Regions from separate parts of the Homo sapiens genome. Here regions 1 and 3 are each linked to region 2. The links come from fine-mapping of genetic effects on gene expression. A gene starts in region 2. Each other region holds a variant in brackets. All regions are shown on one strand. Distances are from middle to middle. Region 1 overlaps LASTR (lncRNA associated with SART3 regulation of splicing). Region 2 holds the start of NET1 (neuroepithelial cell transforming 1). Region 3 holds the start of LOC105376380 (a long non-coding RNA gene).

Region 1 (4,235 bases), 180 kb before region 2:
GATTTTTTTCCCTCCTCTGCTCTCAGTGAACGGAGAATTCCATCTCGGTACAATCTGTGAACCATTCTGCAGTAAGATTGTCATCGTCTCATTCATACTACCTGGTCGGTAACACAAAGGGCTGTAATTGATGTGGTTCAGAGACTCACATCCAAGCAATAAAAATGAATCCCTTATGGTGGTCTGCAGCAACGCAAATGGATCCAGTGTCTGGCTTTAATGGGAGTGGGGAAATTGCTAACAGATGACGGTAACTTTCAGAGACAGACAGACACAGAGAGAGAGAGAGAGACTCTGGCCTTCCAGCTGAAACCACTTCTGATGGCAGCTCTTCCTCCCACATGTGCCTCACAGACGTCGAATATTTACGGGATGCCCTGAGCCCAGCCCTGCTCAGGGTTTAACAGCAGGGGCCATGTGTGTGTGACGGCTGAGGTCACGCAGTCGTTCATTTCAAGCTGTAGAGACATTTGGTTTTAAAAACCCCAGTGCCTCCACTGGGATTGGCTTTCGGAGAAGAAAAACAGCTCCTGAGTTCTTTTCCTGTCCAAGCCCGGGTGGGATCATGCTGCATTGCCAGCCTCCATTAACCCTTTGGGGCTGAGAAAGTTCTTAAACCTTGTGACTTTCTCCCGGTGATTTTTGCCTTTTTGAGGAAGCTGTGTGAGCTGCAGTGATTTCCTGTGAGCTCAATGAAAATGTGTCTGATGTGTATGCACCTGAGCTAGAAAGCCCAAAGACTGCTAAGAAGCCATGTGAGGGCTCAGAAACAAACATGTTGGGGCTTCGAAAGCCTGTTTTTGGAACCACTTTCCCTGTCTGCAAGGCAGAGGGAGGGAGGTACTCTGTTATTTCTAAGTCTCTCTTGAGCTCTTACACTGTGCAAGCCCATGAACGTATTTAATCGTGCATTAGACAATTGTTTTTAATCTATGCCCTGCCTCTCCCAAGATCAACCTTTCCCTGAGATCGGGGCCCCCTCTGGGTGCACAGGGATATTTTTATTTTTTGAGTTGGAGTTTTGCTCTTGTCACCCAGGCTGGAGTGCAATGGCATGATCTTGACTCACTGAAACCTCTTCCTCCCGGCTTCCAGTGATTCTTCTGCCTCAGCCTCCCAAGCAGCTGAGATTACAGGCATGCACCACCACACTCGGTTAATTTTTGTATTTTTAGGAGAGATGGAGATTCACCATGTTGGCCAGGCTGGTCTTGAACTCCTGACCTCAGGTGATCCTCCCGCCTTGGCCTCCCAAAATGCTGGCATTATAGGCGTGAGGCACCGTGCCCAGCCCATAGGGATATTTTTATATACTTTCCTGCCCCATGGGTCAACTGTTCTTGAACCAAAGAAACAAGAGGCGGGGAAGTTATAGGAAGCTTTTAAAATATGCTTCTGTGCAGCACTGCTCGCAGCGTGTCACAGATGTGCGGTATTGGAAGACGAAGGTGAAACTGCATGGAGATGATTGTGTGGGGGATGAGGAGGTGGTGGGTAGGGGACTTGGCTTTCTTCACACAAAGACATCCAGGCAAATGGTAAGTCCAAAAGCCGTGTGACAGATAATGGCCATTGTTCCTGCAGGGTGACTCTTTTCTTTTCTTTTTTTTCTTTTTGAGGCGGAGTCTCACTCTGTCATCTATGCTGGAGTGCAATGGTGCGATCTTGGCTCACTGCAACTTCCGCCTCCCAGGTTCAAAGTATTCTTTTGCCTCAGCCTCCTGAGTAGCTGGGATTACAGGTGCCCACCACCACGCCCAGATAATTTTTGTATTTTTTTTAGTAGAGACAGGGTTTCACCATGTTGGCCAGGCTGCTCTTGAACTCCTGACCTCGTGATCCGCCCGCCTCAGCCTCCCAAAGTGCTGGGATTACAGGCGTGAGCCACCATGCCCGGTGACTCTTTTCAGTCCAAAGAGTCATCATTGTCACTAGACCACCTTTGAACATGGACAGCAACAGCACTATCTAATATTAACTTTCCCTGAATCAATA[C/T]CCTCGTTTGACAAATTATAATTTAACAAAAATATGTTTATGTGTAGAAAAAAGACTAGAAGGATGCAGTGTCTCCGTGGGTGAGAAAACACGTGATTTCTGTTTTATTCTCACTCACTTATATTTTCTAAATTTCCTACTGAAAATGTTAATGAATTATTTAGGTAATGAGAACACAATCTTAATCATGTTTAATTGGTTCATAAGGAACGACAGAGCTTGGCAGCTTCTTGCAGGGTGCTTTCTGCCATCCCCAGCTGAGACACCAGTGGGGCTCGGAAGCTGCCCTCCAATGACAGCTGGTGATGACGGGGACACGGCCAGCTCCCTTCTCCTCCCTCTCCGTTGTGATCCGGGCAATTCCATGTACTCCTTTTCCTAAATCAAGAACACTCTTGATTTCTGGCATTAATACCAGCTCCTGACATAGGACCATGTTGCTCCCTCCTTCAAATCTTTCAGACTTCCCTGCACCGTGGCCCTGAAGGGCCCTCCCCTCCTTCCATGGCACTGAGCTTCCAAAGAGCATGGTGGACACCAGGCCACACTCTTTCTTGTGCTGTCCTCTTAATATTTCAGGTCCATTTGTCGGCCACGCCTCCCCGAACCTTCCCACATACCACCTGAGAGAGAGTGGGAATCATGCCATCTCTTCCATTAATGGTAAAGTTAGTACTAATGGTCTAGCTTGGTGCTTCATGTATATTAAGCTCTGAGAAATAAAGGCAAAATGCAGCTGTGTTTGAACTGCACAGATAGCATCGTGCCTGGATCCTGAGAATCTATAAGATGAAGACTTCAAAGCACGGTGGGCAGTTTGCCAAATATCCGAGGAAGAGAAAGTTTCCGGAAAGCAGGGGTCTAACCCCTAGGAGCAGGCATGCATGGGGGCTGGGTGGGAATCCATGCTGGCCTCCATCACCTGTTCACATGTGTCCCTGGGTGGCCGTGGAGAAGTTGTTGCTGGGTAATGGGGGGCTGGAGGTGCTCCCAGCAGGAAGCCCGACGGGAAGTGCAGGCTAGGGTTTTCCTCGGGTACAGGAGAAAGGGAATGGGAAGGATCTTCTCTGAGGTACAACAGGCAAGAACATGGTCCAAGATCCTGTGACCAGCATTGGTCCAAGCTCAGTCGACATAAGCTCCTAGCAGCGGTGGCATCTGGAGTTTGGAGGTTGTGAGTCCCTGCACCAAGTGGCTCCAGCCTGAGTCTCTGCCACGTTCTAGGGATACATCTGCCAAGGTGTGTGTTTGTGTGTGTGTGTGTGTGTAGTGTGCGCGTGCACGTGCAGAGGCCACACAGAGGCTGGGCTGGGGGCTGATGCAGCCTTCCCTTTGCTGCTAGCCCTGCTCCGGCTCACTCATCTCCCACAGCTGTCAGGAAAGAGAGCAGCAGGTGAAAGCAGGCCCGGCTCCTTGTTCCTGGGGAGGCTTAGCTACACCAGCCACCCCTCTGCCTGCCGTGTGGACCTCCAGCTCAGCATTGTCCCTGCAGGAGGCCAGCCCTTGGGGCACCTGGGCCTGGAAGGCTGAGGTACTGCACCCACCCTTGAGGGTTCCCCGCATCTATGCCAGGAACACTGCCTTGGGCTTCCTGAGGGGCGCCGTGAGATACAGGGACAGATGCGGGCAGCCCTCTGGGAGCTCAACTGGGGCCCTGCGGGCTGTGGGGTCAGAGAGCGCATTCCACCTCTGCAGGCCGCCCTGTCACCCAGCAGGGCAGCCTGCGGCACTTAGTGTCTCTGGTTGGTTTGTCAGCTGCACCTCCCTGAACCTTCCAGCGCGCCACGTGAGAGTGGCAATCACATTCTCTCTTCCCCTTTAAGTTAGCGCTAATGGCCTAGTGTAGTGCTTCATGTATATGAAGCCTCAAAAAGTAAATGCAAAATGCACCTGTGCTTGAACTGCACAGACAGCATCATGCCTGGATCCTGGGAATAAGGATCTTATTATTCCCTGGATCCTGGGAATGATAAGATGAAGACTTCCAAGCATCCTGGGCAAAGCTCGACAGATAGGACAGAGAAAAAGAAAGACATGTGAACACCAGGGCGTAGCCCCCAGGAAGGGACACATGTGCGGGAGAAGGGAGGAGCAGGCGTTAAAGCGGGGCAGCCTGGAGGGCCTGGGTGAGGAGTTGAGTCTGGATGCTGGGGCTGCACTCACCCCGCCAGTCTGAAGGGTTCCTGGGCTTTCTCACCCTCCTGACCCCGCCCTCCCCCTGGCCCCTGGAGCGGGAGGGC
Region 2 (4,235 bases):
AACCCAAACTCTGTCAAGGCATACAAGGTCTCTTCATGATGTGGCGCTTACCTCTTTAGCATCATCTCTCATGACTACCTCCTCCTTCTCCCCATATTGGTTTCCTCTCCTCTATACAAATATCACTGTTAATATAGTAATAAAATAGAATATATACCCAGAACTCATCAGACTCATTTGCTTCAGGGCCTTTCTACATGCTTCTCTGCCTGAAATCATCCATTTACATCTGCTCTCTAAACTGGTCCTTAAAGACTCAGGGATTACAATAGGAAATCATTTCCTATTCTCTCCAGTCAGGATTAAGTGTTCCTTTTAATCTACGGCATTCTGTGTATATCACTATAATAACTTTTATCACATATTATAATAATTATTAACCTACTTATCTTTCTTCCCCACTAGATTATAAATCTTAAATAGTAACAAGAGTATTTTTCCATTTCCATATTCCTAGTGTTGGCACTCACATTATTTTCTGAACAAATCGCACATTCTCTTCTCAACCTGTTGCAAAACACTCTAAGTTCGATATTGTAACCATTCTTGGAAACCATCTAAGATCAATACTCTCTTCTCATTACCAAATTTAATTTTCATTCCTCATCTAGCTTAATCCTCATCTTATTTTACTTAATCCTCATTTTATTTGACCTATCAATAACATCTGACATAGCTCGCCACGTCCTCTTCTTGAAATTCTTTCTTCATTTGGCCTCCTGGATACTGTTCTCACTTGGTTCCCTTCCTCCTAATTCACTAGCTATCCCCTGAGCTTCGCTTTGTGAAATTTCACTGAGCCAAACACGAGTCATACACTCTCATTTCAATGTATACTTCCACAAAAAGTAAAAAGAAAAAACACGAAAATGGTTGTGATGAACTCTCTAATAGGCATCTCATAACATATCCCGAAGTCAACTTATCCCTTAGTCTTTTCTTTCTCAGGACATGGAAGCCCATTCTCGTGGTGCTCACCATGACAGTTTCGGTCTGAGCAAAGGCATTTGGGAACGCCAGCCTACAGCCAGTTGGGTGTGCAGAACAAAACCATTGTGGTTTTTCCTAAGTCTCCCCTGAGAAACAGTCAGGAGGCGAGGAGACTCAATAAACCCGCCCCTTTGCCACAGGCAGGGAAAATCGCAGTTTGGGGTCTCAGGACCGACCTCGGTCCAAGGCCAGGCACACTGTCACTCCAGCCTGTGCCACCCTCACTTCCAGCGGCCCCCGTCCCCCCCCCCAACCCCGCGGTCACCTCCCCCACCCCCCACTCACCTCCCAGCGGCCCTCGCCTCCCCCTGGCCCTCACCAACACCCCCACTCGCCGCCCCCCACATCCAACTCCCGGCCAGCCCTCCCCTCCCCCCGGCCCTTGCCTCTCCAACACTCACCTCCCGTTCGGCCCTCCGCTCCCCTACACTCACCTCCCGTTCGGCCCTCCCCTCCCCCACACTCACCTCCCGTCCAGCTCCGACCCGGAGGTGTCGGCCGAAGGCCCCGTCGCTCCCTCCGTGCTGAGCCCAGAGGCCCGGCGGCTTCGCCTCCGCGGTCGAGGCTGCTTCTGAGCCGCCAGCTCGGGCTCCATGGCACGGAGGAGGGGGTGGGGCGGTGGCCGGGTGCCCGGGAGACCGGCAGGGACGGGCACGATGCCCGCCAGCCTCTGCCAGGCAGAAAGCGCCTGTCAGCGGACTGCAGCCGCCACCGCCGTCATCCGGGGATTTGAAAATGGCGGCTGAGCAGCGATCAGCCAATCAGTGAGCGCGCAGCGGTTCCTAGGAGACGTGGAGTCCCGCCCCTCCACCGCTCCCGGGATCTACTTGCCTAGGAAAGAACCTAGGAAAATTTGCCCTTAACTCCTGAGCGCATCCCTGAGTCCCTAAGGCCCGGTACCTCCTTCATTGTTCATTAGGACTTTCACTACAGGCCAAGGCAAATGGACTGGAAGCATTTTAATTCACCAGATCTTTCTTAGCATTTGAGGAGAAGAGAGGTCCAAACTAATGACCTGTAAACAAGGCATGTTTATTGGCCATATTCACACTGAATTATTGTGCACGTGGCCAATATGAGATATATTTCCAATTACCAAAGGTTATGCAAGTGTGTTCCCGGGACTGTCTCTAGGGAACCAGCAAAATCTAATTATGAGCCCTTATGTCTTCCAATAAGCATGACACAGTCTCTCCCTAGCAAAACAGAATGAAGTGACTTCATCCTTTGCTTGTAAAAGTCAGCAAAAGACATAATATAAAATAAAAGACCGCTTCAAGTAAAAAAAAAATTGTTAAACAAATTACACTTTCTTTGATTTTAAATATTGCTTTATATGTGTCAAAGTCTTTAAAAATAGCTTCTCCTGACCGGGCGCTGTGGCTCACGCCTGTAATCCCAGCACTTTGGGAGGCTGAGGCAGGCGGATCACGAGATCAGGAGATCAAGACCATCCTGGCCAACATGGTGAAACCCTGTCGCTACTAAAATACAAAACTTAGCTGGGCAGAGTGGCGCATGCCTGTAATCCCAGCTACTCAGGAGGCTGAGGCAGGAGAATTAGTTGAACCAGAGAGTCGGAGCTTGAATTGAGCCAAGACCGTGCCACTGCACTCCAGCCCAGTGACAGAGCGAGACTCCGTCTCCAAAAAAAAAAAAACAAAAAAACACTTCTCTTTTGCCAGTATATTTCCACTTATGGAAATTTATCCTAAAAAATAAAATTATATAAACATGAAGCTATTAATGACATTGTTTATAATAGAAACATTTAAAACAACCTAAATAAACAATGATTTATAGCTCATCCACTGAGAAGAATATTTTCAGCCAACAAAAATGAAGTGTGAAGTATGTAATAGTATACTGGTAATTTGAAATAAAAACATGAAGTATAGAGGTATATTCAGTATATTCAAAGTTATGAATTACAAGAGATTATACAAAGAAAAAAGATAATGTATTAAAATGTATTAAATGTATTAAAAAGTCAATGTATTAAAATGTCTCTAGGTAGACTTTAGGTATTCAAAATTTTTATTTTTATTTTTTGCATTTAATTTTTTTAAAAATAAGGACATATTGAATTTGCAGTACCTTTATAACATGAGGGAAAAATGTTTTTGTTTTAAAAAGAGTAAGAAATTAGGGAGTAACATTGAGATGTGAAGCCAGCTAGACTTCCTGGGTAGAGTGGGGACTTGGAGAACTTTTCTGTCTGGCAAGAGGATTGTAAAACACACCAATCAGTGCTCTGTAGCTAGCAAGAGGATTGTAAAATGCACCAATCAGTGCTCTGTAAAAAGCACCAATCAGCAGGACCCTAAAAGTAGCCAATCACAGGGAGGATTGAAAAAAGGGCACTCTGATAGGACAAAAATGGAACATGGGAGGGCACATATAAGGGAATAAAACCTGGCCACCCCAGCCAGCAGGGCAACCCACTGGGGTCCCCTTCCACACTGTGGAAGCTTTAGTTCTTTCACTCTTTACAATAAATCTTGCTGCTGCTCACTCTTTAGGTCTGTGCCACCTTTAAGAGCTGTAACACTCACCATGAAGGTCCATGGCTTCATTCTTGAAGTCAGCGAGACCATGAACCCACCGGAAGGAACCAGCTCTGAACATAAGTTGACCTTGGTCAAGAACCACTTCTGTTCTACCTTCCCCATCCCTCCCCAAAAATTAAAGAAGAAAGTACTGCTTTGTAGCAGTTAGAGTGTAAGAATACAGAAATGTTCTTAATATTTGGGGAGTTGGTCTCCACCAAGACAGAGCTTCAGAGGATGCAGATGTTTAGATTATGAACAAAAATAAACCTGTAAGAGCAATTCTTCAAGTCAGGTCCCAAGTAGGTCACAACTACTCTGTGTCCAGAAAACTCACACCCCTTTGGGATTTTCACAATTTACCCGAATTGACCAATCAGGGCTCACCTGATGTAACCGATCAGAACTCATCTGCTTTATCCAATCAGGGTTCAGCTGTATTACCCAATCTGAACTGAGCAAGTCTGAATCTTTCCTTTGCATAAACACATCTGATTGGAAACCTGGACAAGAACTTTTTCTATAGAAGCCAAACCCTCCCCTTTATTCTCTGGAATCACCTTTCTTTTACTCCGAAGGCTGTGTCTCCCTGGTTTGCAAACTGTTCACTAGAATAAAGTCTCCTTTCTCCAAACTTCCTTTTCAGAGAACTTTTGTTCACAAGATAGGACCATGTGAATCGCTGACGCTTGGTCT
Region 3 (4,235 bases), 140 kb before region 2:
GATTGCCGATGTGTCCACGGGCATGGGGTGTTGGTGCAGCCCTGGACCTGGGGCAGGGGGCTGTGTGCAACCAGGCCTGGTCAGCATTGCTGTCGCTACTACTCTTGTGCAACAAGTGGGGACAACACAGCGCAGCACGGAGCGTTTTCTGAGAAAGGCCGGGGGGTCCGGAGTGTGAAAGGACACCTCAGGGCTGGGGCATGGCAGGGAAGGCTCTGGGTGCTGAGTGCTTGCAGTCCAGGGGGCTTCGGAGCTGCTGAGAGAGGACGAGCCTTGGGTGCTTGACAGTTCTGCGGACAGTTCAGAGGCTGCAAACGCTTCCTGACTCCCCAGGACTGGTATTCTAAACTTGGAACTCGCAGTGCGCTCTTGGCGGGCTTCAGAAAGTTCACGAACACCCTGAACTTGTACCAAAACATTATGTGCATGGGCGTTTCTCTGGAACCGCGGTCCAGGGCGAGGGAAGTTTGTGATAATTGCATTTTTGAAGGAGCAAAGGACCCCTGCTGGGGTACGTCACATGGGGACCCAGGGCCCATCCTGTCTGGCCCTTTTCTCTCCACTTCAGCAGGAAAACACACACACACACACACACACACACACGAGTCTTCAAACTTGGAATAGTGATTGCACTGCTAGAATGCTTATTTGTGTGTGCAGGTGTAGCTTTAGAGATGGAGGCAGGGAGAAGGACTATGCATTCTGAGAGAGGGAGGGATTGAGAGAGAGAGAGAGAGTGTGTGTGTGTGTGTGTGTGTGTGTGTGTGTGTGTGTATGTCAGCAGGAATCTGAAAGTACAGCTTGGTGACTGTAAGGGCTGGAGGTGTCGGTGTTTTCTTGCCTGTTCCTTCTCTCTGAACAGAGCTCTCTGTTTGGAAGACCTGTCTTAGCTGTTCCTTCAAAAGTTCTGTGTGTTCTCCTCTGATCTGAGCTGACTTTCGGGGCATGGCTCCAATGGTTTGCCAGCAACTTAGGCCAACGGCAACAGCGGAAACCGAGACAGCTCTGCAAAAATATTTGTTTAATTAGCAGAAACGATCTGTGATCAGAATCCATGTTTAACGACCTGGCTTACAGCCAAGCTCAACACATTTTCCTTCAGGACTGTTTTTGGTGTTGAACTGAGCAAATTCAGCTCTGACCTTCATCCTGGCTGGGGGAGGGGAGACGCCCCACCCTGCTCAGACCCTGGGCTTTTTATTGAAAGGCAGTGCCAGGCACACTCTGATGGGTCTTGGGGGAGACCAAGGGTGCCCTGCTCAATGTCAGCCCTGACTCTGTGCCACGTGCACTCAGCTCTGCCACGGAGGTGCATGGCTCTGTAGACGTGGACGGTGAGCTGGGGAGGAAGGTGGTCTTGGAGAGAAATGCCCCATGGGGAGCTGAGACCTGTGTGTCATGGGATCATCCTGGATTTGGCTTAAAATCCACGTGGCTGTGGAAATCCCAGGGTGCACCGAGGATCTGTGGGGGAGCAGGGGTAAGTCCAGGTGAACCTCGAGCTGTTCTCAGCCCTGAGGTTTGGGTCACTCCGAGAGCACTTGGGTCTCTGCCGAACGGCACAGATCATTCTCAGGCCCTTACAACCATCCGGGTCACTCTAGAATTCCTTTTAGGACTCCTGGGCTGGGCTGTGGCTATTCAGGACTCTGGGTAAGAGCCCTTGGAGTCACCTGGGAGGTAGAATCGCCATTTTCTAGCAGCCATCTTGAATGGCAGATTCCCTGCAGTTCAAGCTGGGGCTGCCCAAGGGGTTCTGGGGGGTCCTGGGTGCCTTCCAGTTGCCCCTCCAGGTGCACCCCCTCCTCCCCCAGGACACTGACCGGCGGGGGCCATCGTGGGGGACCTTGTGCTCTCTGGCTCTGGCTGGCTCAGCCAGTGGGAGCCTGTGGGGCTGGGAGGGAGGAGGGTGTGATGAGGCATCTCCTTCCCGCTGGGCTCCTCCCCACCTCTTTCCTCCTTTTCCAAGTCCCCTGACCATCCCTCCCCTATCTCTCCAGGTCTCTTAAATTACCACGGTGCCAGCTACATGGCCCGGGTGGGTGGTTCCCCACACTGCCTACCCCTTCATACCTCGCCCCATTACACCCTCCTGGAATCATTCTCACTGGAGGCTGCACCGTTTCCTGCTGCCCACGATGAACAAAGCAGGAAACTGTCTTTTCCAGACTTCCCCACGAAGTGAGGTTTTGACGACCTCATTCTCCAAGAGCA[A/G]ACCCAGCCCCTGGAGTCCGTTCTTTCCCTGCGCGCGTGGACACCCCTGCAGCAGTGGCTCCTTTTGGTGGCCGCTCTTCAGACACGTGCTAGAGAGCAATCATTGATGACAACGTTTTCTTTCAAAAGGCCCAGAAAACAAAATTAAATCTTGGGACTCGAAGCTTCCTGGGCCTGTGCCACGAAGGCCCATGCTTAGCCGGTCTGGTGCCAGGCTCTGTGACGTGTGGAAACCAGGCCCACCGACCACACAGCAGTGGCTGAGGATGGCTCCCTCCTCGGCTACTCTCTGAAATGGTAGAGGCCACTCTCATGGCTGAGTGGTCTCCGCCGTTCTGCAGAGGTGTGGATAAGAACAGGAGTTCCTGCTTGTCTCCTAGGGGTCCGTATTGAACGTTGGCAATCAGTGGAAATCCTGTCTCAGGCCCTCTCGGGGCCCCACACTGATCATTGTATTTAAATCCTCCCAGTGTCCTGCAGACACCTACCTCCCAGACCAAAGAGGGACCTTGCTGGTGGCCAGGAAACAAGCTGAAGCACAGAGAGGAGAGAAAGAGACAGAGTTGGGTCCTCGGGTCACCTTAAAAGGCTGTGAGACTTTTTGCCAGGGCAGGGCCTGGCGGGTGGTGGAGATGCAGGATGAAGGACTTAAGGAGGGATCTTTTACTTTCAGTGTGAAAGTGACCTGTGTTTTTATGAGGGGGCTAGAGAAATACTCAGAATCTGAGAGCAGGCAGTTGGAGTGGGATCTCAGCAAACTTCCGTGTCTGCATGGTCCTGCAACCATCGCCCTGGACAGAGGTCTCAGCTGGGTAGAGATGGACGGTTGTCAGGGCACAGCCTGTCCTTAGGGGGTGCTAGGAATGGGGATTGGGGTGAAGAGGAGTTCAGGAAAGAGGGGTGAGGCATGGGGAACCTGCTGGCTTAGAGGATGCAAAGGGGCAGGTTTTATGGACGCTTTATGCAGGTCCCTTTCATAAAGATACTTGCCCAGCCTGAGCAGAAACCCACACCCTAGAGTTTGTTTCTTCCCTGTGGGCACCCCCCGCCCCCGCAGCAGCGGCTTCTTTCAGTGGCAGAGGCTGACTCTTTTTGCAGCTTCTCCAGCACTTGCAAATGCAACTTCCTTGCACCCACTTCAGACACTTTACAGCTGGAACCCCTTCCTTCAAGGTTAGGGGCCCAGGCCCACAGCCCCTACCTCCAAGTTTCCACGTTTGAAGAATCCCAACCTTTTCCCTTTGCCTCCTCAGCCTCAGGGGTGACACCTCAGAGCTCCTGTTTACCTCTTTAGCCACCAGGTTAGTAATTTTACACCCATGCAAGTGTGTACAGGAATCTTCCGGATCCAAGTGGCTGGTGTGGGCGTTGTCTTCTGTCTGAACCCTGGCCCTTGTCTGTGCAGATTCCTCCCCTCCTGTCCGGGAGAGAAGAGACAGTTTCGATGTCATGTGGAGACAGGAGGCTGTGGTCAACGAGGGGAGGCTGTGGTCAACGAGGGGAGGCTGTGGTGGGGGGTGGCGTTCTGAGTCACTTGGCTGGCTTGGGAATGTGAGCTGGGCCAGGTGCACCTTAGAGAGCCTGGGTGGTGCTGGGGACCTTCAGGCTCTGGAGTCCTGGGTGACCCTGACAGGTGCATGTACCCACATCTCCTTGGCCCCTGTCTCTGTTGCTAATGTCCCTGCACAGACCCCCCCCAGCCGTCATTTACAGATTCCCAGCAGTGAAGCACACGGGCTTAGGTTAAAATCACTGAGCCCCTTGCACAGCGGCCTTCTGGTCCCCTCTGCTGTAAGGCAGGACCACCTGTCAGCCCCTGTCTTCTGGGGACCCCACTAGGCCTAAGAGATGAGGCTGTGGGGTTCTGTCTTCTGGAGGCCCCACTAGGCCTAAGAGATGAGGCCGGCGGCGGAGGTCTGGCCTGGAAGAGAAATGTGGTGAGTCACCCCAGGCCTGACAGATTCACTCAGACCTGGTCCTTCTGCTCCTAGGCTGAGCCATCTCTCAGGGACCCTCCTGCC

Evidence for each region. PIP is the estimated chance that this variant, and not a neighbour inherited with it, causes the effect. A credible set is the group of variants that fine-mapping cannot tell apart.
Region 1: its variant is the best candidate, but not a certain one, in a credible set for the expression of NET1 in whole blood (INTERVAL, PIP 0.70).
Region 3: its variant is the best candidate, but not a certain one, in a credible set for the expression of NET1 in whole blood (INTERVAL, PIP 0.72).

Annotation. Positions count from the first base shown.
Region 1 is chr10:5,590,947-5,595,181 of GRCh38, reverse strand. It overlaps LASTR (lncRNA associated with SART3 regulation of splicing), which reads left to right. Exons shown (of 2, transcript NR_134491.1): 2 at 1-198. Among named protein-coding and RNA genes, the nearest start is that of LASTR, 3.1 kb to the left of the region's middle. The variant C/T (reference allele first, on the strand shown) is at 1,996.
Region 2 is chr10:5,410,043-5,414,277 of GRCh38, reverse strand. It overlaps NET1 (neuroepithelial cell transforming 1), which reads right to left and starts at 1,721. Exons shown (of 12, transcript NM_001047160.3): 1 at 1,458-1,721. The coding sequence starts at 1,585. RefSeq lists a silencer at 1,380-1,809.
Region 3 is chr10:5,551,310-5,555,544 of GRCh38, reverse strand. It overlaps LOC105376380 (a long non-coding RNA gene), which reads left to right and starts at 3,468. Exons shown (of 4, transcript XR_930611.3): 1 at 3,468-3,515. RefSeq lists enhancers at 998-1,520, 1,521-2,044. The variant A/G (reference allele first, on the strand shown) is at 2,215.